Linked DNA regions of Homo sapiens. The protein of the gene in region 1 purifies or fractionates together with the protein of each later gene. This does not show direct contact. Each region holds a gene or a part of one and is shown on either strand. Other genes may lie near its edges. The genes, in order: TAFA3, PPP4R2, PRMT7 and UBP1.

What was found.
Region 2: the proteins of TAFA3 (region 1) and PPP4R2 purify together in Homo sapiens (affinity purification with mass spectrometry; 2 studies listed by BioGRID and IntAct, with this or other methods). This does not show direct contact.
Region 3: the proteins of TAFA3 (region 1) and PRMT7 purify together in Homo sapiens (affinity purification with mass spectrometry; 2 studies listed by BioGRID and IntAct, with this or other methods). This does not show direct contact.
Region 4: the proteins of TAFA3 (region 1) and UBP1 purify together in Homo sapiens (affinity purification with mass spectrometry; 2 studies listed by BioGRID and IntAct, with this or other methods). This does not show direct contact.

The regions. Positions count from the first base shown.
Region 1 is NC_000001.11:112,714,831-112,721,904, forward strand, and holds the start of TAFA3 (chemokine-like protein TAFA-3 isoform 1 precursor), read left to right. Parts: upstream 1-4,074; 5' UTR 4,075-4,469; intron 4,470-5,746; 5' UTR 5,747-5,804; intron 5,805-7,074. Other genes in the region: PPM1J (protein phosphatase 1J), read right to left, coding at 146-471. UniProt on the Homo sapiens protein: Plays a role in the regulation of microglia polarization.
Region 2 is NC_000003.12:72,999,792-73,006,825, reverse strand, and holds part of PPP4R2 (serine/threonine-protein phosphatase 4 regulatory subunit 2), read right to left. Parts: intron 1-7,034. UniProt on the Homo sapiens protein: Regulatory subunit of serine/threonine-protein phosphatase 4 (PP4). May regulate the activity of PPP4C at centrosomal microtubule organizing centers.
Region 3 is NC_000016.10:68,313,992-68,321,025, reverse strand, and holds part of PRMT7 (protein arginine N-methyltransferase 7), read right to left. Parts: intron 5,130-7,034; 5' UTR 5,047-5,129; coding exon 4,952-5,046; intron 1-4,951. UniProt on the Homo sapiens protein: Arginine methyltransferase that can both catalyze the formation of omega-N monomethylarginine (MMA) and symmetrical dimethylarginine (sDMA), with a preference for the formation of MMA.
Region 4 is NC_000003.12:33,388,382-33,395,415, reverse strand, and holds part of UBP1 (upstream-binding protein 1), read left to right. Parts: intron 1-1,961; coding exon 1,962-2,104; intron 2,105-2,801; coding exon 2,802-2,853; intron 2,854-5,047; coding exon 5,048-5,085; 3' UTR 5,086-7,034. UniProt on the Homo sapiens protein: Functions as a transcriptional activator in a promoter context-dependent manner. Modulates the placental expression of CYP11A1. Involved in regulation of the alpha-globin gene in erythroid cells.

The DNA.
Region 1 (7,074 bases):
AAGACCAGAGGATAGCAAAGGTCCACGGAAAAGGGAGCTCCTGGCCCGGACGCGGCGTGGGGAACGCGTCCTAGCGCCGGGGATGCGGAGCTGGGGAGAGGGGTGGGAGCCCCATCCTGGTTTGGGTGCCCCAGGGGGCGCTCACTCGGCGTAGCCTGTGCTCCAGGGCAGGCGGCGGCCCGTGTCCGGGGGGCTTTGCACAGCCCGGCCCGCGTGGTCATCGGCGCGTCGCAGCCCCCCGGGGCTCAGCTGCAGAAAGGTCGGTCTGGAGAAGCTCGCTCGAGCCTCAACAGCCTTCGCGGGCGTCGCGCTCCCGCTCCCAGCCTTCGCGGGAGGGCTCCTGGGCGCTTCTGGAGCGGCGGCGGGCGGCGCCGAGGCGGCGTTGGGCAGGTCCGGGGATTTGGGGCGCGGAGGCGGAGCGCCCCCGGAGCTCACCAGGTGCGCCACGGCCGAGCGCACCCGGTTTAGCATGCTGCCTCCCTGCCCCGCCCTCGGCCGCGGCCCCGCCCCCGCCCAGGCCCCGCCCCCATGGCTCCGCGTGGGCGGTGCTCGCGCCAGCCGGCCCTTCCCTGCTACTGGCTCCCGGCCAGCTGGGCGGGTCCCGGGCGAAACTTGCCCTTGCTCTGGGCCACCCCAGGAACCGGCCCACGGGTCCCCGGCCTCTGCCCCGCCCCATTCCGGCTTGGCCCCGCCTCCGTTTCTTAGGGGTAGGTTCTGTTGCTGTGGGAAGGGGGCGGAGAGAAGGAAACCTTATTTCAGCCGTGCGCTAGATTAGACACAGCTAGAATGTCTCCATTGTGACGGGGGCTGAGGGACAAGGGGGTGCGGTCTCCTCGCTCTCGGTTCGGTGTGGCCAGCCAGCCCAGAGAGCCATGGAGCTAATGACCTCAGAGCAAAACAGGCGCTTGGGAGCCGCTGGGTATGAGGCGCCAGGTGTGACACCACCTCTGGATGGGGCTGCTGGAGCGAGAGCGGGCAAGCTGGTACCGGGTGGGGTTGCGGGATTAATGACGCAGGCTGCAGCCGACCACCCCGGAATCAGGAGCCGGGGTAGATTCCTGGGCTCCTGATGCGCTGTTCCCCGTGAAGACCACCTCTAGATCTGGGAGAGCGGTTGCTACTCCCACCCTCCTTTCTCTCTCAGAACCCAGGTCTTTCCCACAATGCAGACCTTCCCTGACCACAGCAGGACAAGCTATTAATAGGATAATAACAACATAACAAATACTATTTATTGAAGAAGTACTGCATACTAGACCCTTTACAAAGCACGTTCCATACAGTATTAGGTTATTTATACTGCACACCAATCCTTCAAGATGGTTTTTTTTCTGTCAGTTTCACGGATGAGGCAGGACGGGACGCTTCCTGTCATTTTACCGTGACTTGCCCCAGGAGGTCACACGGTCAAGTGAAAGATTCACACCTATGTCGGCCTCCTGACATTCAAACCTGCTCTGTCTTAAGAACCAAGCTTACTTCTCCGGATCAGGGAGGAAGGGCTAGAAAGGAGATCAATGGCAGAGAGAGGAGTGGGGGTTCCTCCCCTCCCATCCTTCTCTTAGGGCCAGGGCTGAGAGCAGTCCGGGAATGCTGAGCAAGTTCTGTGTCTACCGCCAGGGGGAGACAGAGGCCAGGCTAAGCCCTTGCCTAAGAAGAGTAAAAGCACACTCACTGGAAGACCAGGACAGAGCCCAATGCCTGGTTGGCTGCCCGTTCTTCCTAACTTCTCCCCTCTGGGAGAGGGTGGTACTGACCTGATGCCACAAGAGCTCTGTCTCTAAACCTCCTATCAGAAAGTTGATCGCTAGGTATCCACAGACACCACCCATCCACACATCTCAAATGGGGACAACGCCGTTGTGGCCCTCAAGCAAGTTGGAAGTAGCCATCAGGGACTACGGCACCCAGTTCACGGCTGGAACTTTTCTGGGCTCTGTCGGCCAGGTGCTTCCTGACCACATACCACTTTGTTCCCCAGGCTAAACTGTGTCCCCAGAAGGGATGACTTTCTTGGCAGCTTCCAAATAAAGATCCCACAGTGGTCCTTCAGGTTGGTAGACTTACTATGCCTGCTTTGTTACACCTGAGCTTTAGGCAGAGAGAGACAGAGGAAAAGAAGTCACAGGAGAGAAAAAAAACAGACCCCAAGGCAAATAGAGCAGCAAAAGAAGACGGGGACAAAGAACAGGCTGCTTCTATAGGTTTTCCCCTGCTATTTGAGAAAAACTGGAACCAACTCTCAGATAAATAACAGCAGCAGCAAGCCAGCAACTGAAGAAACAAATATAACTCCTGGTTGTTTTTATTATTCAGTGTTTCTGGGACAGTTTACTTACCACTTCTTCGTGTCACCCAGCTCCCTATTCCCTGCCCTTTCTAGCACCCACCATGGTGTGGCTGCAAGCTGTCCGCAAAGCTAAGCCAAGAGACCCCCCCAGCCCCAGCACCAGATGATCAGCAGGGAGAATAACAGCTCCCTGGGGCTCCAGAACAGCCCCCAGCCATGGCCTAATCCTAAGGCTCCTCCTCCCTGAACCTCTCACCTCCTATTCCTGGCACCATTATGCCTCCTCCATCCTCAGACTGCCCCAGAACCTGGTGAGGTCATCACCTCTACTCATCCCTGAGGCAGCGGAAAGTGAGAGAGAAAAGGGGATGGGGTATGAAGAAGCAGACTTGTGGGATGTTTTTCTCTGTGAAGAGTGAGACTCTGCTTAGTGGCTGGCCCTGCTGGGGGAGTGTGAAGCTTGAACCAAGGAGGGGGACTGGACAGCCTCAAGACAGGCCCCTTTATCTCAGGCCACAGTGGTGGCTCAGGGCCCAGAACTGGTCATCTTCTGCCTTGTCTCTCCCCTTCACATCACCCTAAACCCAAAGGCCTCTTAAACTAAGAGGAAAGTCCCTTCAAATTCACAGAACACCACTTCCTCTCATTTGTCTAATACATTCGCATCCAAAACAGATCTCTGTAAAGAATTATTCAGTTGCAATTAATTACATTACAATTTTTCTGATAAAGAAACTGGGTCTCAGGCCAGGAGTGGTGGCTCACACCTGTAATCCCAGCACTTTGAGAGGCCATGGTGGATGGATCAGTTGAGTCCAGGAGTTCAAGACCAGCCTGGGCAACATAGCAAAACCCTGTCTCTACAAAAAATACAGAAAATTAACCCTGGCTTGGTAGTGCACTACAGACTACCCCTATAGTCCCAGCTACTCAGGTGGCTGACATGGGAGGATCATTTGATCCCAGGAGGTGGAGATTACAATGAACCAAGATCTGGGTGACAGAGTGATGAGATCCTGTCCCCAAAAAATAAATAAATAAAAAAGAAAAGAAAAAGAATGAAAGAAAGAGAAGGAAGGAAGGAAGAAAGAAAGAGAAACAAGAAACTAGGTCTCAGAATTTGGTTCCCATGTTGGTATTCACACTTAACATCCATAGGGACCATTCATAGCCTACTACTGTCCTCCTGCCTAATGCCCACACCCTCATACTTCCTCTAGCCCTCCCAGCCCCTGAGAGCACCACTCCTGGGAGAGGAAGAGATATTTACTATTCCCTCCTAAATATCATTCTAGAAGAGTGCTGCTGAACAGAACTTTGTGCACTGACGGGAATGTTCTACATCTGCTCTGTCCAATACAGCAGTCCCTATCTTCGTGTGGCTATTGAGCATTTGAAATATGGTGCCTACTAATGAGGAACTGAATTTTAAGTTTTATTTAATTAATTTAGATTTAAATTTAAATATCAACATGCCACTAGTGGCTACCGTATTGGACAATGCAGTTCTGCAATCTTCAAAGCTCAAAAACCCTGAGGGTCTAGTCAATCACTCCTCACTCCCAGCTCCTTTCCCCCCAGCACCTCCACCTCCCCTGAGCCAGGGCACTGGGGGCCACAAGACCTTCAGGGTTTTGAGGGACCTCCTCTGAGTTGCCACCACGGAGGTGTCCATCCTCACTGAACCTGCGGGTGCCGGATGTCCTCTCTCCCTTCCTCTTGCCCTCGGCCGCCAGGGGCCGCTGCGTCTCGGCTGTGCCCATCCGTTCAGCCGAGCGCCTGGCACTGTCCCGAAGGAGGCGGCGGCGCCCACGCGGGGCTGGAGGAGCGGGGGTAGCCCGGGGCGAGGCGGCGGTTGCGGCGGCGGCTGCGCGCTCCCCGGCCTGCCGGCAGGAACCTTGGAAAAAACCCGGCTGAGTTCTGCAGAGCTGGCGGGGCCGGGCCCAGAGCTCCCCTGTGCCCAGAGCCCGGCCCGCCCTGCGGATGATGCCAACCTGACCAGAACCCCGCTGTCCCGGGGGCGCAGCAACTTGGTGAAGGGGACAGGGCTCCGGACTAGACAGCACCCAAGCTGGCCGCTCCCTCCCAAAGTCTGTCTTTCGGAGTGCTGGTCCCTGGCTCAGTGGCAAGGAAGACTTCAGGCCAGCAGATCGAACCAGTGGGCATCACCGTGGACCAGGTAGGTCCCAGGTGTGGGGGCTCAGAATGTGGAGGAATGAGTAGGCGTTAGGGGGGTTTGTGGGGAGAGAAGGTGAAGAAAGGTTGAAGATTCTTGTGGTTCACATCCTCAAACCCTTGTAATGCAGGCTGCTAACTCAGCCTCACTAAACCCCTGGATTGGGATTTAGGAAAAATAGGCTAGGAAATTGAGGCAGGAGCATGGAAGTCGAAAAACACATCCCAGAAGCTTCTATGTCCAGCTGTTTCAGGGAGGGAGGGAATAGAATGCCAGGGATGAGAGCCCAAATGAACACCCCCACCCCTCTGCTCCCCACCCCACCAAGGTCTTTTGGGCCTTGGGGTTCCTAGGAGAGATGCCTGAGTTGGATTGGAGGATGTTGCAGCTCAGAGGGAAATAGGATCACCTGAGAGAAGACAAAGCTGCATTTGTGATGGTCAAAAGGAGGGTTCCTGGAGGGCAGGGAGAAGAGATCTCTACTCAGGAAAGAGGCACATCTAGAAGAGTGGGAAGCTCAGCCCAGGGAGCACACCCATCCCCTGGGAACTGGCACCTCTTCTCTGTGTTCCTCCAGATTCCCCTTATGCTCTCGCTCCTAGGAGCTAGGACTCAGGGGTCTCTGTCCTTCCGGGGCCCCACCATCCTATATGTTTCAGTTCTGCCTCCCTTTAGAGAGGTGAGGGAAGAGAGGTTCTTAGGGAGAAATGGAAAGCTATTGGAGGCTGTGGCCTTCAAAGGCTCAGGGACCTGGAGTGTCCCCATTCCAGCCCTCTGGTGTGGGAATGGGGGCAAGGGATGCTAAGCCAAGCCAGCTCCATGTGAGTCCAGGAAGCAGGTGCCATAGTGGGTAGGAGGTGGAAGCAAAGAGGATCAGGGCCTCAGGTATCTCCCACGTGCCTCTTCCAGCAGGAATCTGTCAGGTTCTGCTCCTTCCTTGACCCTCAGCTCCCTCCCAAGGCCAGAGAGATGACAGCTGTGATTCTTAGACCCCTCCCTACCATCACCCTGCTTCACTCTTGGGATAGAGAAACTCCCTCAGGCCACCCTTCTCAGGCTCACCACCCTGTGTGATCCCAGAGTCTGCAAGAGCCCCTCCAGATTCCCAGGCCAGAAGAGACTGTCCCTGCCCTGGCACCTGAGAACAGCTTCAGAATTGGGCTGAACTTCAGTGCCCAGCCCACCCCCTTGCCCTCTCCCAGGTTCTCCTTCACCCCCTGCAGAGCCATCGGCTCCCTCTATCCTTTGCAACCCCCTATGAATCTTTCCTACTTGTCCAGGTGGAGTGAGTCTGAGGACAGCAGATGAACAGACAGAAACTGAAAGATCCCCAAAAAGGTAAGTGGGGAGACATTGAAGATGGGGAGTAGCGGGGGTGGACAGAGATCAAGTACCCTATCTGAGGAGCAACTGGGTCCTAGCAGTTGGTTTGGCCTCTGGTATTCCCAAAGCTGCACTGGCACTTGTGGGGGCCCAGCAGTGGTCCAGGCTCACCCCTGAGCTTTTGGCCTTGCTGCATCCTGGGACTTCTCCTGCTCCCTTCAATGGCTGGGCAGCTCCTAGCTACTCTGTGCCTCTTGCTTCCTTAGGATTCCCTCCATTTCCAGCCTACCCTTCAGGGTAGCTTTGGGAGGCCCAAACCATCAACGATGAAAGAGGAAAAGGAAAGGGGAAGAGAACAGAGGCAAGGTGGTGCAGTGGGCAGAGGGCAGGCTTCTAGGCTCTGAACTCTTCCACCCACATGCTGCCTGGCCTTGGGCAAGTCATTTGACTTCTGTTAGCCTCGGTTTCACCTCTTCCTTTTTAAATTTAAATTCTGTTTAAATTGAAGTGCTACTGCATTCCCGTGGTTGGCAGCTCAAAAAGCAAGAAATAAATCAGGAGAAAAAGTCTCTCTTCTACCTCCATCTCCCAACCAACCAGTTTCCCTTTTGGATGGCAAACAATATTACTAGTTTTAAAATATATTTTTCAAAGCTAGTTTATGCATATCTGAGCAACATAGATAATCCTTCCTTTATACACATTTTATTTTATTTATTTTTGAGCTAGGGTCTCACTCTGTTGCCCAGGCTGGAGTGCAGTAGCACAGTCATAGATCACTGCAGCCTCAAACTCCTGATCCTCTCACCTCAGCCTCTGGAGTAGCTGGGACTATAGGTGTGCACCACCATGCCTGACTAATTTTTTAATTTTTTGTAGAGATGGGGTCTTGCTATGTTGCCTAGGCTGGTCTCGAACTTCTGGCCTCAAGTGATCCTCCTGCCTTGGCCTCCCAAAGTGCTGGAATTAGAGGCATGAACCACCACTCCTGGCCTGCCTTATACACATCGTATACACACCATTCTACACTTTGCTTTTTTTCCCCCTTAACAGTGGATTATCACTGGAGATCACTGCATGTGTCAGGACATAAAGCAATTCCCCATTGGTTTTTTTACAGCTATCTGGATGGGACTGCATTTGTACAGACTCTTTACGATGTATTCAGCCAGTCTTTTACTGATGGTTGTTTAGGTTATGTCCTAGCTTTTTGAGCTTTGGTTTTCTCATCTGTAAAACAGGTAATAATAATGTTGCTTTGTAGGACAGTTGTGAAGAATTCAAG
Region 2 (7,034 bases), on another chromosome or scaffold:
AGGTACTCATTGGAAATCACTGCAGACCAATTTGAGAACAGCAGCTGAAACTGAGATGGATTTTGCCAACTCTAGCAATGAGTGAATAGACTGCTCTGAGTTCGAAAAGACGAAGCAGGTCTTGCTCACTTGAGCTCTTGAAAGTGACCCAACAGTGCTCCAATCTAGAGGTAAGCCCCACAATGAGGAGAAAGAGTCAAGAGAAATGAAGACAAGGTTCAAAAAAAAGCAGAAGTGGAGAACACAGCCTGGAATTTCAGAATGCAAACTGCCGTGTTCTTAAAACACTTCACAAAACCAACGAGAGTGCTCCATGTAGTTAGAAAAGCTACTCTGGGCCAAGTGTGGTGGCTCACGCCTGTAATCCCAGCACTTTGGGAGGCCGAGGCAGGTGGATTACGAGGTCAGGAGTCAGCCTGGCCCATGTGGTAAAACCCCGTCTCTACTAAAAATACAAAAACTAGCCAGGCATGGTGGCGCGCGCCTGTGGCCCCAGCTACCAGGGAGGCTGAGACGGAAGAATAGCTTGAACCTGGAGGCAGAGGTTGCAGTGAGCCGAGATCATACCACTGTATTCCAGCCTGGGCAACAGGGCGACACTCCATCTCAAAAAAAAAAAAAAAAAAAAAAAAAAATTGTGGCATATTCATACGATGCATCTACTCAGAAATAAAAAGAAATACAAACTATGTTGAATAGAAGAAGCCAAAGAATACATACTGTATGGTTCCATTTACATAAAATTCTAGAACTCACAAACTAATCTACATTGACAAAAAGTTGCTTGGAGGGAAGGCAGCACACACAGGGAGGGAAGATTACAATGGGGCATGAGCAAACTTCTGGGAGTAATGAATGAACATGTTCACAATCTTGATTGTTGTGATGGTTTCCTGAGTGTAGATATGAAAACTTAGCAACCTGTACATTTCGAATAAATACAGTGTATTGTATGTCAATTATACCTCAATAACACTGATTTTTTTTTTTTTGCAGACAGAGTTTCACTCTTGTTGCCCAGACTGGAGTGCAACGACGTGAGCTCGGCTCACTGTAACCTCTGCCTCCCGGGATCAGGTGATTCTCCCGAGTAGCTGGGATTACAAGCATGCACCGCACCCAGCAAATTTTGTATTTTTAGTAGAGATGGGGTTTCTCCATGTTGGTCAGGCTGGTCTTGAACTCCCGACCTCAGGTGATCCGCCGGCCTCAGCCTCCCAAACTGCTGGGATTACAGGCGTGAGCCACCGCACCCGGCCCGTAACACTGCTTTTTAAAAAAGGACTCAAAAGAAGAATTCAAGACAAAATGATAAGTACTGAAGATATGCAAAGATGCAGCAATATAGTCTCCCTCCCCTCCCCAACAAAAAAACCAAAGACAACAATTCACTTTCTTGAAATATTTAATATTTTTTAAAAATTTAAAAATTCATATTGAAAGACTACACCACCAGTGTGTAGATAAGTGGATAAAAAAAAAAAAAAAGACCACACCATATACCTGAGTACAATGACTCCAAAATATCCAACATTGATTTTCAAAATGCTTTTAAAGATCTAGTCTATAAAAACCACTGTATTTTGGCCGGGCGCAGTGGCTCACACCTGTAATCCTGACACTTTGGGAGGCGAAGGCGGGGAGATCACGAGGTCAAGAGTTTGAGACCAGCCTGGCCAATATGGTGAAACCCCGTCTCTACTAAACATACAAAAATTAGCCAGGCATAGTGGTGGGCACCTGTAATGCCAGCTACTGGGAGGCGGAGATTGCGGTTAGCGGAGATGGCGCCACTGCACTCCAGCTTGGGCAACAGAGCAAGACTCCGACTCAAAACACACACACACACACACACACACACACACACACACACACACACACGACTCCGACTCAAAACACACAAACACACACACATGACTCCGACTCAAAACACACACACACAAACAAACAAACAAACACACACACACACACACACACACACCCCACACTGTATTTTAAAGAAAAAAATCTTTTAGGAAGGTAGGCAAAAAGATTGGGCAGTTTATAAGGTAAAAAAAATTATCATCAGATGTTAACAGCTGGCCAGGCATGGTGACACCTCTGTAATCCCTGCACTTTAAGAGGCCAACAAAGTGGGCAGATCACTTAAGCTCGGGAGTTCAAGCTCAGGAGACCAGCCTAAAAACATGGTGAAACCCCATCTCTACAGAAAACACAAAAATTAGCCAGGTGTGGTGGCATATACCTGTAGTCCCAGCTACCGGGAAGGATGAGGTGGGAAGACAGAGTTTACAGTGAACCAAGATTGCATCACTGCACTCCAACCGGGGCAAAAGAGCAAGACTCTGTCTCAAAAATAAATAGATTTTAACAGTTTTACTGGGGGGAAACAATAGAATTAACAAACTTAAGACACTCAAGGATAGAAAATGTGAACCAAAGATTTTACTTCCAGCCAAAGTGACCTTCAAGATTAAAGGGCACATGCCAGGCACGGTGGCTCATGCCTATAATTCCAGCTCTTAGGGAGGCACAGGCGGGAGGATAGCCTGAGCCCAGGAGTTTGAGACCTGCCTGGGCAATATAGCGAGACCCCATGCTCAACAAAAAGGGGAAATAAAAAGGGGGGCAAAAAAAAAAAAAGAATAAAAGGCACAGACAACATACAAGACATACACATAAGAACTCCAGGCCAGGCGCAGTGGCTCATGCCTGTAATCCCAACACTTTGGGAGGCCGAGACAGGCAGATCACTTGAAGTCAGGAAATTGAGACCAACCTGGCCAACACGATGAAACCCCATCTCTACTAAAAATACAAAAGTTAGGCCAGGCACAGTGGCTCACGCCTGTAATCCCAGCACTTTGGGAGGCCAAGACAGGCAGATCACCTGAGGTCAGGAGTTCGAGACCAGCCCAGCCATCACAGAGAAACCCCGTCTCAACTGAAAATACAAAAAAGTAGCCGGGCGTGGTGGCATGCACCTGTAATCCCAGATACTCAGGAGGCTGTGGCAGAAAAATCGCTTGAACCCAGGAGGTGGAGGTTGTAGTGAGTCAAGATCGCACCACTGCACTCCAGCCTGGGCAACAGAGCAAGACTCTGTCTCAAAAAAAAACAAAACAAAAAAAAACTCCAGAAATATTGTTTCAATTAGCCGCTTTTCAATAATCTATTAAAGAATAAGCTTCATTCAGACAACCAAACTGACGAGAGACAGAGAGAATACAATGACAATGACATAAGGACTGGTTGTAGGCATGAGATATATACCTACTGTAAAACTAAGATTGACAGTTAAAAGGGAAAGTCAGCCGGGGCAGTGACTATGCCCGTAATCCCAGCACCTTTGGAGGCAAAGGCAGGGGGAGGATCACTTGAGGCCAGGAGTTCGAGAACAGCCTGTTCAACACAGCGAAACCCCGTCTCTACTAAAAACACAAAAATTAGCCAGGCAATGGTGGCACGTGCCAGTAACCCCAGCTACTCAGGAGGCTGAGGCACAAGAATCACTTGAACCCAAGAGGCAGAGGTTGCGGTGAGCTGTGATCGCACCACTGCACTCCAGCCTGGGCAACAGAGTGAGACTCTGTCTCAAAAAAAAAAAACAAAAGGGAAAGTTACGTAATAGCAATATGCTCAGACAAGGGAGACAGAAAAACTTTTAAATGGGGGCTAGAAATAGAGAATATGTAAAAAAAAAAAAATTTAACATTCCTAGTAATTATATTGGTGGCAGTAATATTCGCATTATTATTTTAGACTTTCTGATGTGTAATGTTGGTTACAATCAGTAATTACAAGACATCCTGATTCTATCATACCCTGCCTGTGTTCTTGAGAGAACCAGGATTCCTGGTATGCAAAAAGTTATAAAAACCCTGGGCCAGGCGCAGTGGTTCACACCTGTAATCCCAGCACTTTGGGAGGCCAAGGTGGATGGATCACGAGGTCAGGAGATCGAGACCATCCTGGCTAACACAGTGAAACCCCATCTCTACTAAAAATACAAAAAAATTAGCCAGGCGTGGTGGCGCATGCCTGTAATCCCAGCTACTCACGAGGCTGAGGCAGGAAAATCGCTTGAACCCAGGAGGCAGAGGTTGTAGCGAGCCGAGATCGCGCCACTGCACTCCAGCCTGGGTGACAGAGCGAGACTCCGTCTCAAAAAAAAAAAAAAAAAAAAAAAAAGAAAAGAAAAGAAAAGAAAAGAAAAGAAAAATCCCTGTGCACTCCCATGTTTACTGCAGCACTATTCACAACAGCCAAAATATGAAACCAGCTCAGTGCAATGGCTCATGCTTTGTAATCTTTGCACTCTGGGAGGATTGCTTAAGGCCAGGAGTTGGAGATCAGCCTAGGCAACATAGCAAGACTTTGTCTCTACAAAAAAAATTATAAATTAGCCAGGCATCGTGGCATGTACCCTATCTGTAAGTCCTAGCTATTCAGGAGGCTGAGGCAAGAGGATCCCTTGAGCCTAAGAGTTTGAGGTTGCAGTGAGCTATGACTGAGTTGCTGCACTAAAGCCTGGGCAACAGCAAGACCTTGCCTCAAAAATACATTTTTTTAAAACAAGGAACCAACCTGAGTTCCCATCAATGGAAAAGAAAATGTGGTATATTATTCAGCAATAAAAAAGAATTAGATCCTGTCATTTGCAACAACATGGATGGAACTATAGGCCATTATGTTAAGTGAAGTTAAGTCAAGCACAGAAAGACAAACATCACGTTTTCACATATGTGGGAGCTACAACAGTGGATCTCACAAAGGTAAGAGTCTAAAGACTGATGATTACTAGAGACTGAGCAAGGAACAGGAGAGATAAAAGGGGAGAAAAAAGAATATACATGTATTTATTACCACCAAACTGTACACTTAAAATGCTAAAGATGGGGCCGGGGGCGATGGTTCACGCCTGTAATCCCAGCAGTTTGGGAGGCCAAGGCAGGTGGATCACGAGGTCAAGAGATAGAGATCATCCTGGCCAACATGGTGAAACCCTGTCTCTACTAAAAACACAATAATTAGTTGTGTGTGCCTGTAGTCCCAGCTACTCAGGAGGCTGAGGCAGGAGAATCGCTTGAACTCAGGAGGTGGGGGATGAAGTGAGCCGAGATCGCGCCACTACGATCCAGTGTGGCATAGGGCGAGACTCCATCTCAAAAAAATAAAAAAAAAGAAGAAAGAAAACTAAAATGGTAAAGATGGTAAATTACATAAGTGTGCAAGTGTGCATGTGTGTGTTTGAGACAAGGTCTTACTCTGTTGCCCAGACTGGAGTGCTGTGGCACAATCACGGCTCACTGCAGCCTCAACCTCCCAGGCTCAGGTGATCCTCCTACCTCCTCCTCCCAAGTAGCTGGGAGTAGCTGGGACTACAGGCGCATGCCACCACGTTAGGCTAATTTTTTATATTTTTTGTAAAGACGGGTTTCACCATGTTGCCCAGGCTGGTCTCGAACTCCTGGGCTCAAGTGACCCTGGGCCACCTGCCTCAGCCTCTCAAAGTTCTGGGATTACAGACATGAATCACTGCACCTGGCCAGTAAATTATATAAGTATATTTTACCTAAACAAAAAAAAAACTTTTTAAAACGCTGTATTCCTCATTCTGAATTGCAAGTCTTAGTATTTTATGTAGCTGAGTAATAATAAACTTCTCTACCACCAAGATTGTAGTCTTGAAATGCCATTTCCCACTAAAAGGCAGGTCTTCTTGAGAAATATCTGATTCACATCTGGGGCAGGAAATGAGCTTGGAACATATTCTTATACCAGAGAATAAGGATACTATCAAAAACTACTAAGGTCACGTCAAAAGGACTCTGGAGCCAACTGGAAAAGGCTACCACTGACCAAATGGGAGACAACTTGACCGTCAAAAAGGATAATAATTGCAACTCAAACCCATCAAATACCTTTAAATCCATGACTGAAATGCATCAAGTGTTTAAATTCATGATTGAAACACACCATATGTTCCTGTTTATTCAGCGCATACTATATATTTAGCATGATGTCAGAAACTACATTACCTTCAGAAGAGTGTATTCTTTCCAACATAAAAACAATTTTTTGAAGTGGCCAGAAACAATTCACCTGGGGATTAATTATTTTAGTTATATACATATATAGTTTCCCTCTTCACATCAATTTAGTATGTCTTGGCATCTTTCCTAACTTCCTACATCAGATGTTTACAGGTAATTTTAATAGACTAAGAAGTAAAAATGTTCAAATTTTTCCTACGGCCTCCTCCATTTTTCCTACAACCTCCTCCATTGTAAAAGCCTATACTTACAATTCTAAAACCTCTCTAAAGCTAAAAGCAAGTGTCAAATCAATTGTCTTTTGAAAAGAAAACTAAGCAGCCTGGGGGGTCACTGATTTTGATCCATAAACAGTTTCACATACTACTTCTGTTAATGCTTTCTTGCTATAATGCATCAGTGAAAATAAAAACAACTATGAAATTTTTTTTTGAGACAGAGTCTCACTCTGTCACTCAGGCTGCAGTACAGTGGCACCAACCATCATGGCTCACTGCAGCCTCAACCTCCCACATTCCAACAATCCTTCTGCCTCAGCCTCTGGAGAAGCTGGGACTATAGGCATGTACCAACACACTCAGGTAACTTAAATTTTTTGTCCTGAGCTCAAGTGACCCACTGTTTCCCAAAGTGCTGAGATACAGGCATGAGCCACCACATCCGGTGGAAATGCTTATCTTAAGCAATCCACCCATCCTAAAACATCAGAAAAGTCTAAATTGCTGTTCTTTAAATTTTCATTTTCATTCTCTCGTTACAATCTCACATACTAGACAAAGCTTAGTTTAGCCATAAATAGGTAGCAGAAACTCTGCAAATGTCAGTATCAAAGATATGCCATGTTGATAAAAAGAAATCAAAGCTTAAAGCTAAATGCATAAACACTGGCTGCTATTTACATAATAAAATAAAAAATATTTTCCAAATTCCATTGAATATAAGAATCTAACTACACCAATCATTTCAGTACAAAACATG
Region 3 (7,034 bases), on another chromosome or scaffold:
AAGTGCTGGGATTACAGGTGTGAGCTACTGCGCCTGGCCTATTTTTTTGTTTATTTTTAGAAACAGGGTCTCGTTATGTCACCCAGGCTGTAGTGCAGTGGCTATGAACAGCCTCAATCATTGGGCACTGCAGCCTTGAACTCCTTAGCTCAAGAGATCCTCTTGCCTCAGCAGAACTACAATACAAGCATCCGTCGCTGCACCTGGCCACTTTATTTTAATAGAGTTTCAAGCTGTTATTCTCTAGTGCTGCAGAAAAAAGTCTCAGAGAAAGATGTTCTCAGACCTAAAAATGCTCCAGTAGTTAGCTGCTGGGAACAGGCCCCCAAATCTGGCCAAAAACAGGCCCCAAAACTGGTCATAAACAAATCTCTGCAGCACTGTGACATGCTCGTTGATGGCTATGATGCCCACACTGAAGGTCGTGGGTTTACTGGAATGAGGGCAAGGAATACCTGGCCCACCCAGGGCGGCTTTCGCTTAAGGCGTTCCTGAACCACAAACAATAGCATGAGTGATCTGTGCCTTAAGGACATGTTCCTGCTGCAAATAACTAGCCAGAGCCCATCCCTTTGTTTCCCGTTTTAATCTATAATCTATAGGAACAATGCTTATCACTGGCTTGCTGTCAATAAATATGTAGGTAAAGTTCTGTTCGTGGCTGTCAGCTCTGAAGGCTGTCAGCCCCCCAATTCCCACTCTGCACTCTATATTTCTGTGTGTGTGTCTTTAATTCCTCTAGCGCCACTGGGTTAGGGTCTCCACGACCGAGCTGGTCTCGGCAGTTAGCCCTGTCACAGTAATTCCACAGCCACTAGCATCTTGATCTTGCTATACACTACACATTTTCCTCCTCAGGAAAAACTCAGACTCAATCTGCCTAATACTTGACCTAACCTGGCCTACATCTCTGCCTGGAGATAACCACTGATGCGGTATTAGGGAGAGCAGCCGGGGAAAGAGAAGCACTCACATACACCCACTGTATATGTGACAGGTACCCCACTGGGCACGTTCACTTAACATCATCAGGGAAAACTAAAGAGTTCACCAATACCGTAGTAAAGGGAGGAGAATCACTTCTCCATATTTCCTACTGCAGTAATTCACACACTGAAAACCCTCAGGCGGGGTCGGGATGAGCACCCAGAACTAGGCAGGCCCTGCCACGCTTTCTGGGAATTCAAGGGGACAGCTAAGGAGCTCACATTAAAACAGAGGCCCTCCAGCCTTGGGTCAACACTAGAATCACTAGAAAGCTTACCTGAAATGCAGAGTCCCAGAACACACACACACACACACACACACACACACTCTCACTCTTATTGAGAAGGCTGGGCTAATGTGCTCCAGGCAATTGTGCCACAGGTGGTCCACATTCCACACTTTGAAGAGCGGTGCACTGAAAGAAGGGGGTTCTTTTTTTTTTTTTTTTAATGGCACATCAAGGTTTTATATCTGAAGCCAGCTATGGATGCTTAGCTGAAATGTAGTCCTTTCTACCTCTGCTCACTATTTAAAAGGCATCTCACTCACCACCTTCCTGGCCTCTTCACACTTACTGCCCACCACTCCACTGACATCACTCTCGGTAACCACCACCAGCTCACTCCTGCAGCTGATGTCAGTCATCAGTATCTGGGACTTCCCAGTGCCTCTGACCTTGCTAGACACACTCCCTCTTTCTTCCTTTCCATGCTGGCTATCTCCCTTGCCCTTCTTTGCCTCCTCAGCTATTCCGGGATTCCTTCTTCAGCCCTCTACCTTTCACATTCCACACCCCCTTGAGAGACTGCAACCTCTCCCAGTTTCAGTTCCAACAACTACAAATTCTGTCTCCAGACCCAAAATTCTATCTGCCATTGGCATCTCTATGTGGATGTCCAAACCTAAACGCCTAATCTCCATCGTGTTCCCCTCCCCACACCACCCATTCCTCCCTTGCAGGCCCCATCCACTTTGTCATTCTAACCAGAAGTCTTGGTGCTTCTTGAATCTTCTCTCTCCCTCCATCATATCCAGTGAGTTACCAAACTCAAGTTCCCCCGAGCTGTCTCCTCTGGGACTATGCAGCTCTGGGACTACAATATCCCCAAATGCTCTCCTCTCCACACCGCTCTCAGTGAGTGTTCCAAAATGCAATCCAATCCTCTTTCTCTCCTGTTTAATATATCACTCAGAAAATAACGTCCAGGCCTGACACTGTGGCTCACACCTGTAATCCCAGCACTTTGGGAGGCAGAGGCAGGTGGATCACCTGAGGTCAGAAGTTCAAGACCAGCCTGGCCAACAGGTGAAACCAAGTCTCTACTAAAAACACAAATATTAGCCAGGTGTGGTGGCAGATGCCTGTAATCCCAGTTACCTAAGAGGCTGAGGCAAGAGAATCCCTTGAACCTGGGAGGCAGAGATTGCAGTGAGCCGAGACTGCGCCACTGCACTCCAGCCAAGGCAACAGAGTAAGACTCCATCTGAACAATAAAACAAGAAAATAATGTCCAAAATGTTTAGAAATATTTTAAGACCTGGGCAGGTGCAGTGGCTCACGCCTGTAATCCCAGCTCTTTGGGAGGCCGAGGCGGGCGGATCACAAGGTCAGGAGATCAAGATCATCCTGGCTAACACGGTGAAACCCCGTCTCTATTAAAAATACAAAAAATTAGCCGGGCGTGGCAGCGGGCACCTGTAGTCCCAGCTACTCAAGAGGCTGAGGCGGGAGAATGGCGTGAACCCAGGAGGCGGAGCTTGCAGTGAGCAGAGATCGTGCCACTGCACTTTAGCCTGGGAAACAGAGCGAGACTCTGTCTCAAAAAAAAAAAAAGAAAAAAAAGTAAATATTTTAAGCCCTAATTCTGCACCAGATACTGTATTACATTTAATCATCAAACAATTCTAAGATAATTGTATTATACTGTGAGATAATGTATTACTATATTGAAGTATATATTATTTTATATTAAGGCTCAGAGAAGTAACTTGGCCAAGAGAGTAAAGAAGTGGCAAAGCTTGGACTTAAACTCATGTTCCTCTTCCTGCATTTTGCTACCACCCTTTACAAAATGACCCCGCGTATGCTTTCGGCAGCCTCTCTTACCATAGTACTTTTGTACCACACTCCAGCTGCACTAAACTGCTAGCTGCTCCCCAGAATAGCCCATCTGTGTGTGTGTGGTTTTTTTTCTTTTTTTTTTTTTGAGACAGAGTTTAGCTCTTGTTGCCCAGGCTGGAATGCAATGGCACGATCTCGGCTCATGGCAACCTCCGCCTCCCAGGTTCAAGTGATTCTCCTGCCTCAGCCTCCCGAGCAGCTGGGATTACAGGCATGCATGCGCCACCACACCTGGCTAATTTTGTATTTTTAGTAGAGACAGGGTTTCTCCATGTTGGTCAGGCTGGTCTCGAACTCCCGACCTCAGGTGATCCGCCCGCCTTGGTCTCCCAAAGTGCTGGGATTACAGGCATGAGCCACTGTGCCCAGCCTGTTTTTGGTCTTTGTTTGTTTGTGAGACAGTGTTTTACTATGTTGAACTCGTGGGCATAAGCAATCCTCCTGCCTTGGCCTCCCAAGTAGCTGGGACTACAGGTGTAGGCCACTGCACCCAGCCACAATCTGGCTCATCTGAAAGCTTACCTGTAATCCCTGCTGCTCAAACTTCACCTTCTCTTCCTTTAGAACTGAGAAATTATTCAAACATTACCTCCCACCCCAAGTTCAGCTGGTTCTTGCTGCTTCCATGACCTCTTGTGCCTTTATCTCACTGTGCTGTAATTTTTTTTTTTTTTTTTTTGAGACAGAGTCTCACTCTGTTACCCAGGCTGGAGTGCAGTGGCACAACCTTGGCTCACTGCAACCTCCACCTCCCGAGTTCAAGTGATTTTCCTGCCTCAGCCTCCCGAGTACCTGGGATTACAGGCGCCCACCACCACTCCCAGCTAATTTTTTTTTATAGAGACGGGGTTTCACCGTGTTGGCCAGGCTGGTCTCGAACTCCTGACCCTCAAGTGATCAGCCGCCACCACCCCCTCCACCGCCCGCCCGCCCGCCCTTTGCCTCCCAAAGTGCTGGGATTACGGGCATGAGCCACCGTGCCTGGCTTTTGTGCTGTAATTTTGTATGTGCCTGTCTCTTCCACAAAACTGCATGGTCCTTGAAGATGAGAACAGGATCTTCTTCATCTGGTATCCACAGCCTTAGCACAATGCTGGCACACTGAATGCACTTAATGATTGCTACATAACAACTCACATACTTTTTTTTTGAGACAGAGTTTCGCTCTTGTTGCCCAGGCTGGAGTGCAATGGCTCGATCTCGGCTCAACACAACCTCTGCCTCCCAGGCTCAAGTGATTCTCCTGCCTCAGCCTCTCAAGTAAGCTGGGATTACAGGCATGAGCCACCATGCCCAGCTAATTTTGTATTTTTAGTAGAAACGGGGTTTCTCCATGTTGGTCAGGCTGGTCTCGAACTCCTGACCTCAGGTGATCTGGCCACCTCGGCCTCCCAAAGTGCTAGGATTAGAGGCGTGAGCCACTGCGCCTGGCCAACAACTCACATACTTTTAAATATTTCTTCTAAGGGAAAAAAAAAACCATTTTCATTTTTTTCATTCAAAAGAATTTAACCATATGATGAACATGTCACCATTTCAGTAAGGCAAGTAAATGATTCAACTTCATCAACACTACTGAGGCTTGGGTTTTCTTTGCTCCGTTAAACAGATGCTGAGGCTCTGCTAAGGCTGCTACATAATGTCTGACTCTCCAAACAGGCATGATTTTGCCTAACTGCTACATATACCTACCTGGCTGAGCAGACCTGCTCAGGACCAACACCAGCCCTCATCATAAGCACTGGGTGACAGCCTAGCCCACGCTCAGACTGGAGCCCAAGGCATCTGCTTTGAGATCAAGTGCCCCACCCAGCTGCAGCCTGCTGTAAACCAACCCAGTACCTTGCAATCTCCTGGTGGTAATCATAGTGTTCATCCTCCTCCAGCCACTCCACAGACCCCGTGGTCGGATTGGCCCGACTGCAGAAGATCTTCATGGTGCCCACTAGCTCCCCAGTTTTAGCACAGAAAAGCAGCCTTGCCAGTTGAGTTCTTGTGGACAAGTCTGACTGTCAGAAATCTATTAACATCAGAAGGAAACAGGAGGTATATAAACAAACGAACAGAAAAAAAATCTATTAACAGCACAATGCCCCAAAATGTGGAGGGGGGAAGGGGAGACAAAAGCGGGGAAAAAAATCAAGAAACTGACAAAAATGTCAAAGCCACTGATAGTATTTGTTAATCGATATTGTAAATGTTTCCAGCAGGAGTTACTTGGTTTTATATTCAGCATATAACATTAAAAAACTACAACAGATTCATACAGATGTCTGGAAACTTCAGCAGGCTTCGGTGCTTCCAAAAGGTTCAAATGAGCCTCACAAGTTCATCTAGGTGCAGCCCTCAAGGCTAGGAGAAGAGATGGGGTACTGTTAAAGAAGTGCCACCAATACTGCCTTCGTATGCTGAACCCTTAGCTTAAGGAAAAATATGAAGATAGAGCAAGTCAAACCAGGAAAACTTTCATCTAAACAATAAATTACAGTCACACATAAACCTAAAAATGGATAATCCCAGGAATATAATGATGAGCAAAAACAGCAAATCACACAACACATGCAATACGATTCCATTTCTATGAAATTTATAGCTATGCAAAATGGAGTGATACGTTCTTCAGGGATCACACTAAAAAGCATAGCAAGGAATCAGGATAGTTAACTCCTAAAAGAGAAGGGAAAGAGATGGGATCAAGGAGGGGTACGCAGTGGACTTCAAAAGTATTGTTCTTTTTCTTAAATTGGGTGGTGGGAACATAAATGTTCACGATATTAGCATTCTTTTTCTTTTTTTTTTTTTTTAAAAGATGGGGTCTCGTTATGTTGCCCAGGCTGGACTCAAACTCCTGGGCTCAAGCATTCTTCCTGCCTCAGCCTCTCCAGTAGTTGGGACTACAAGTGAGTGCCCCACACCCAGCTAATACTAGCATTCCTTATGCTTCATTATTTTTTATAGTGATTACTTCTTATCTATTCAAATTTTAATTTTAAAAGCAATTTTTAAAAACCCTCCATCATCTAAAAAAATTTTGCTTCAAACAAGTAAAATGTCACCAGATTCACGTCTTGTATGGCCTGTCTCCCCAAAGAGATCTATTTCTGGGAGGGAGAGAAACACCACCGCTCAAAGTCTAAAGGCACTCCTCAGCAGGTGTGGGCTCTCCCAATACCCATCCCTCTTACCATGCAGAAAGCAATAGGTGTTCTACACTGCCCTTCCTTTCTTGTTAAACATTGGTGCATCTTCAGGAAAACTTAGAAAGAATGCCTACTCCACATATCCCTAAACATTCCTATGGCATTTTATTGGCCAGAGTTTTTTTTCTTTTGAAGTTATCTAGAGTAAGTAAACATGGAATTCTTACACAAATAGATGAGAAACAGGCTGGGCACGGTGGCTCACACCTGTAATCCCAGCACTTTGGGAGGCCAAGGCAGGCGGATCACCTGAGGTCAGGAGTTCAAGACCAGCCTTGCCAACATGGCGAAACCCTCGTCTCTACTAAAAATACAAAAATTAGCCAGACATGGTGGCGCACGTCTGTATTCCCAGCTACTCAGGAGGCTGAGGCAGGAGAATCACTTGAATCCAGGAGGCGGAGGTTGCAGTGAGCTGAGACCGCACCACTGCACTCCAGCCTGGGCAACAGAGTAAGACTCCGTCACCAAAACAAACAAACAAAAAGCAAATAGATTAGAAACAATCTTCCCTGAACAAACTCAGGCCGGCAGTCAGGTTCAAAGTAGACAATTTGTCCAGGTAAAACTCTACTACTAAAATCTCAGCATACCTATCCCCTAGTCTAATGATTTTCAAACTTTCTGATAACCCCAGTAAGAAATATACTTTAAAATGAGACTCAATACACATACCTGCATGTACGCATACAACTAAATGTTCCACAAAACAATACTGACTTCCT
Region 4 (7,034 bases), on another chromosome or scaffold:
TTGTATGGATATATGGTAACATTTCCTTCTTTCCATACTCTGAAGTAGAACAAAGGCAACATGCTCAGAACTTTAAAAAAAAAAAGATGTGTTAATGGCATTCAGAGATGCAGTTATTTGCCCTAAGAATAGGTAGAGCTCTGAAAAATGTCTTGTGGTTTGAATTTTACTGAAAAATTGGAAGGATAGCATCACTACTGTGAACTTTTCTATTTGGTATTATTTTGACTTCAAAAGCTCTGAATTTTGAGATTAAGTATACAAATTCTTAAAGGATAAAAATTTAAAGGAGATCTCCATGTATCATCAAGAGCTTATACATCACTTAGATATGGCCAAGATTATAATATTTTGGAAGGTGTATTCTCAAACATGAGTGTTTGTGGAGGGATATGGGGAAATATTGGATATTTTCCCATAATCAGCAAACTTTTTCTGTAAAAGGTCAGGTAGTAAATATTTCCATCTCTTTAGATCATACATAGGGTCTCTCACATTCAACTCTGTGATTGTAGTGCTAAAATAGCCATAGACAATATGTAAATTGTAGATAAGGCTGTTCCAGTAAAACTTTATTTAAAAAAAAAAAAAAAAAAAACAAGTGGAGGGCAGGAATTGGCCCATATGGGCTGTGGTTTGGTGACACCTGCTCTAGATCATTTCTATATTCTTACTGTAATTTTAGTTCCAGCTTCTTTTATGTAATGGAAAATTCTGGGTTTCTATACTCACAGACCCCTTGTTTGGGGAAGCAAAGTTCTCAGTAATGATATTCCTGATCCATGTCTGGCTTTAATCAGTAATTGAGCAGGACGTACAAGAGTGAGACTCACTACAGATGTGCACTGTGCAGATGTCTGCTGATAAGTTCTGTGTAGCAAAAATGCAGAACACTGGAATGTGGCTGGGGCTTTCTGTAAGGAAGCATCACACTTCATTGTTTATATTAGCTTTTCATATAGTATCTTTTATTTAAAATTTTTTGTGGGGGAGGGGCATATACAGATAGCTTTTATTCCTTAGGATAAATTCCTAGTAGTAGGATTACTGGATCAAAAACTATAATGCTTAACTGGGCGTGCTGGCTCACGCCTGTAATCCCAGCACTTTGGGAGGCCTAACTGGGCAGACTGCGTGAGCCCAGGAGTTTGAGACAGCTTGGGCAACATGGTGAAACCCTGTCTCTACAAATAATAATAATAATAATAATAATAATAATAATAAAAATTAGCCAGGCATGGTGGCGTGTGCCCCCACCATAGTCCCAGCTACTTAGGAGGCTGAGGTGGGAGGATTGCTTGAGCCTGGGAGGCAGAGGCTACAGTGAGCTGTGATTGTGTCACTGCACTCCAGCCTGGGCAACAAAAAAGGACACTGTCTTAAAAAAATAAACAAAAAGAACTATGACTCTTTTAGGGTTCTTTTTGTATATTGCTAGAAATACATGAAGTATATATTATTTTTAAAAACAGCTTTCTTCAGGCATAATTTACATACCATAAAGTCCTCCCATTGTAAGTATATAATGGTATTTTAGCCAATTTAGAGAGTTTGGCAGCCATTGTCAAAATTCAGTTTGAGTTCCATTATTTCAAGAAGATCCCCCATGTCCATTTGCAGCCAATTCCTGTTTTTAAATTTTGAATACATGAAACTATATTCATTGAATAAAAATATGAAGAAAAATTCAAACCTCAAATCTTTTTGTCCAGGGATTTCTGTTAATGTTTATTAAATTATATTTGTGGATATAAATAATGTATTCTTACGTTTTAGATTGGTAGTTCAAGATTTCAAGGTAGTAAGATGGGGGAAAGAAATAGTTTATTCCCATTTAAAATGTTTTTTTACTTTTTTGGTACTTTGAAAGGTGTGACCTTCGTACAGATCCTACAGATCAGGCAGAAAACAGATCAAAGATTACTGTTAAAATGCTTTTCTTTTTTTTTTTTTAATTTCAGTTTATCATGCAATCTACTTGGAAGAAATGATTGCCTCAGAAGTTGCTCGAAAACTTGCGCTGGTGTTTAATATCCCTCTCCACCAAATTAATCAGGTTTACAGACAGGGTCCCACCGGTATTCACATTCTTGTTAGTGATCAGGTAAATCAAATCATTTGTTTTTCCTTTTCAGACTGGTATTTACTTTTATACATGTAATTGTAGAACTGTAGAAAAATTCTGTGACCTCTTTTGAAAATACTTATGAGAATCATTTTCAGAGAGTTGGGAATCACTTTGGAAGAACTTATAACCAAGAGTTTCAGGCATCCTAGTGATAATATGGAATACAAGCCAAGGAAAACTGGCTTAGCCTCCCCCCAGCCCTTTAGGATGCAGCCAATCACTGGGGCACTCTAGGGATAGTGGCAGGCTTTGGCCCTTTTTATGAGGTGAGTCACTGGATGTGTTTTCCTTTTGTCTATTATTTGATGACTAATTTAAAAAAACATGTAAGATATATAATTTTTCCCCTAGTGATTGGTGGCAAGTAATAATAGAAGAGCACTTTATGCAATTTTTGTTCGAGTCATCATCCACTGGAGCCGGCAGGGAATGTGCCCCTGTGGGTCACATGGGTGACTGACCAGGTCTCTCAGGGACCATTATGGACAGGCATAGTGAACACAAGGCAGTGCAGCACGTGTGCATCTTTGCTGCCTCACACTGCCTTCATGAATTATCGTTTTGGCCATTGAGTCCTGTGTTTGTTTGAGAAGAATATTTACTGTTTTAAAATCATTTTAAGAAACGACAGTTGGATCTTAATTGTACTTACGCATTTACTTTATCCTTCCAGATGGTTCAGAATTTTCAAGATGAGAGTTGTTTTTTATTCTCCACAGTAAAAGGTACTTTGCATGTGTGTGTGTCTTAAAATGCTGGAATCATGAGAGATGGTGTGTGCCTCTAATTAGTGCCTCTCGTGTTTATTCTTTAAAATGATTGCTTTACTCATTTTAAGAAGAAAGTTTGATAAATGAGAATATTTCTAGTGGTTGTAACAGAAATTAGCATATAAGGAAGAGGAGTCAGTCTTTCTAGATGACTGGAAAAAAAAATCTCAATTCATTCAGCCAACGTCTTACTGAGCACTTTGTGTCAGACACCGTGCTTCTGTCGCTCAGTGGATCTATTGAATAAAACAGAATCCATGAAACTCCTATTGGGGAAAGCAAACCAAAATTGGCCAAGAGATACACAAAATTCCCAATATGTTAAGTTCCATGAAGGAACAGGAAAGTGTGGGGGTACTTATGGATAAGGGAGATCTGGGTTGAGGGGAATATGAAACTGTAAGGCAAGGCTTCTCTGAGGAGGTGTTATTAATCCTGAGACTTGAAGAATGAGAAGAAGCGGGAGCTGGCCATTGGATTAGCATCCCCAGGCAACGTGGGGCTGTGTGCAAAGAAAACACCTGGCTTCTTGGAAAGCCTGGCAGTGGGCCATGTAGGTGCCATGCAGTGTGTGAGGGTGAGCGGATCAGGGCAAATCAAAGCAGGAGGCCGGGTCTGGCATGCGGGGACCGGATGATGATGGTAGTTCGGATTTACTTGAAATGCATTGGGTTGTCACTGAAGTTGTTTAAACAAAGGAGTAGTAATGTGACTAGATTTTTCTTTCACTTTCACAACTCTGTGGAGACAGATGAGAAGGTGGCAAAACGAGGCAGGAGATATCCAGGTGAAAGGTGATGGTATCTTACACGTTTATAGACAGGGTCCCAGTGGGCTCCACTTTTGAGGGAGGAATAGTTCTGACACCTTATTTTCTGTGGAAAGTAACTGGGCAGATGGTGATCTCATTGAAGAGGTAAGTATGGTTGGGGTAAATCAACCAAGAGTTTGATTTTGGATATGTAGAAATGTCAAGTAGGCAGTTGACTATTACCAGTCTGGGGCTCAGAGAAGAGGCCTGGGCTTGAGATGTAAATTTGGAAACCTTCAGCATATCAGCAGTGACTCAAAGCTGTAGAAGTTGTTAAGGTCATTTAGGGAGAGAATATGAAAAGAGCCAGGACCAGGCTTAGGTGGCTCCAACATTAAAGAGGAGGGATTCCTAAATGTAAAATTATTTGAGAAGAGATCATACATTCATAGACTGTTTTAAAAGTCAGGTGAGCTAAGATCCAAATCCGGTCTTAGCACAAAAGCTGCCCCTAGAAGAGGGAGATGTCATGTGTGTCAGGTGTCCCCAGACTACTGAAATACTGATTTTATTTTGCGCCTCACATGTTGCGTATGCCATCAGGTTACCTGCAAGGCTGAGTTTTAACTCTGAACTGGTTCACTCTTTCAGAAACATCTTTAGCCTAGTACCCTTCTGCTCAGTCTTTTGTTTTCACAGCAGTACAGTTTTTACCTTGCATAACTGACATTGTCTGAAAAAGAAGACATATACTATAATTGCATAGTTTTGTTTTGTGAAACCAGCAGACATTTTTTGGTATTAGAAATCATAGGATCTCCCCTCTAATCTCAATTTACTGTTTTGTTTTTTTTTTTAAACTTTGTCGTCATGAGAAAAATCATTTTTTTATGAATGCCTATATTGCTTCTCACTATTTACTGAGAAACACTAGGCAAAAGGAATGATACAGTTTTAAAATGTTTGAAATCTCTGTGAGTAGCTCAGAAATTTTTCTGGAAAAGGTAGATGTACACATTTGCATTTACTCCCTCAGGTCCTCTGCCCTGACACAGTATATTTCACCTGTTCTCCTTCTAGCTCTTGCTCCCCTTATGGACAGCACTATTATTGTGTGTCTTGATAGATGTCCCCCTACCCCCAGAACTGGCAGACAGTGTTGGAATGCGGGCGTTGATAGTGGGCCAGGCTTCGCAGAATGTCTAAAAAGGGAATGTGTACATGAAGTTTTTTGGGGGAAGAGGAGCTAGAGCAAGTTAATCTGCTTGTTTCTCTAGAATCATTTAAAGGTAACCTCTGAATTGGGAAGGGAGGTTGTAGTTGGCAGGGAGTTTTCCATTTAATAGGCTTAATTTCCTAAGCCTGACTGAAGAAATACTGTCTTTCCTTTTTCTGCAGCTGAAAGTAGTGATGGCATCCACATAATTTTGAAGTGATGTCTTATATAGACTGAACTGTATTCAGTACCAAATAGTCACGCTTAAAAGTGTGTGAAGACTGAATCCAAGAAGTCTTGGGATTGGATTTTACCATATGAAATGTTTCATATTGAAAACACAAGATGACCTTTCTAATGAGCTGTATGAGAGGTGAATCTCCTCACTGTCACTGCCATAGCCAAGCATCCTCATGAGAGTGAGCACATCGGCACAGCATGCATCCAGCTCTGGAGGCCACGGTGCAGGCATAGCTGCCTGCTGCTCTGGCAGAGGCCAGTAAATACAGTTCCTAGAAGCAGCCTTTGCTGTCTTTTTACACTGTATGCGGTTTGGAAATGAATGTAGAAACTTACTGTGGGCATTTACCTTTCTGTGCCAGTTTGGCTTTTATTGCCTGAACCTTATGCTGACCTGGAGAGGAGATGGGGGACAGTGCTGTTGTGGGGCCAGCAGTGAATCTGTATGCGGAGAGTTGTGTTGTGCTGATGTGGCCGTTGGTGGTCAGGTAAGAGGCTCGGCACCTTCTTGGAAGAAATCATGTCTGAGGGTGTACGTTTGATATGATCATGCCAGATTGGAGAAGATCCAAGCCAGGAAGATGGGCTTGAAGCAAACTGCATTATCAGGAGTACCTTGGTGAGAGGATCAGTGTAAATCCTAATAGGTACAAAGACTTTTGTGTTTTGGCTTTGTCACAGATTTATTGAAAAACTTTTTTGCTTCTGCTTCCATTTTTAGCATTTTAGTTTCTGGTTTTCATTTTTGGAGATTCCTTGCCTTTTAAACTCGTGGTTTTTCTCTCATTTTCTTCCCTCTCTCCCTCCATCTCTGACCACCCCCACCCTAACCCCCCACCCCCACCATCCTATTAAACATTTTTAAAGCCCTACCCCAGACATTGGAAATAGGTGACCCAAGTAGGGGGAGAAAGTATTATTGTTGATAGCTTCTGACTAGGTGTTAAGGGATCTTCATTATGAACAAGATGAATTTTTTTCTGGAAACACTAGATGTTATCAATCAAACACTAAAATGTACCATACAAATCCCTTAAGCCTCTCAAATATTGAGCTTTAGTACAATCATGGATAGACATTCTGGTGATGATTTAGGGGCTTTTTATACACCACATACTAGCTTCTTTCTCTATAAGAGTGCCTCTTTCATAAAACCAAATGCTTGTCTGCTAGCATACTTTTCAAAGGGAATCCACTGTTTTCTCACTTTCCTCCCATATCTCCGTCCTTCATCCAAAACCTTCCCAGAATCCATCAGCAAGCATGTTTGAGGCCTGTGGTGTAGGGGACTGAATTTTTTTTTTAACTTCTATTCCATTTTAATTGTAGGATATCTTTGTCCATATACCCAGGTGTCCTGATTTGAATGTACTATTTGATCCTCATTGTGTTCAGGCAAAAAATAGGAAATGAGTAATTTTGAGTTTGAAATCTCTCCCAGAAGACAAACTACTTCAGTGAGTAAAAGCTTTGACATTTTATGTTTTATTCATAAAGGGGGTTAATTATTTGCTACAAAGAAGCACGATCTATTTTCATCATCGATTTGAAAATATCTGTAACTCCTATAGATCCTATAGGCAGAGAGTTTTCCTTTCTGACTTTTTCCCTTTGCTTTCGTGTGACCACATGTTTTCTGTACCAGTCACTGGGGAAAGAAGTGAGTTTATCTCGTTTGTTTTAAAAGTTTTGCTTGTCTATTTAGCATTCCTTTTTGGGTCTCAAGATTTATGGAACAATAAATGTCATTTAATGCTGTGTGCTTATTTTGAATTCCTCATCAGGTTTTAGAAGCGGGGTAAAAATACTTAGATGCTTATCAGACTTGAAATTATACTGAGTGGCATTGAACGTGAGTTTGTCCCAGTGAAACAGGCTAAATAAATTTTGGCACCAGCAAATTTGTTACTTTGTTTTTTTAATAGTAGG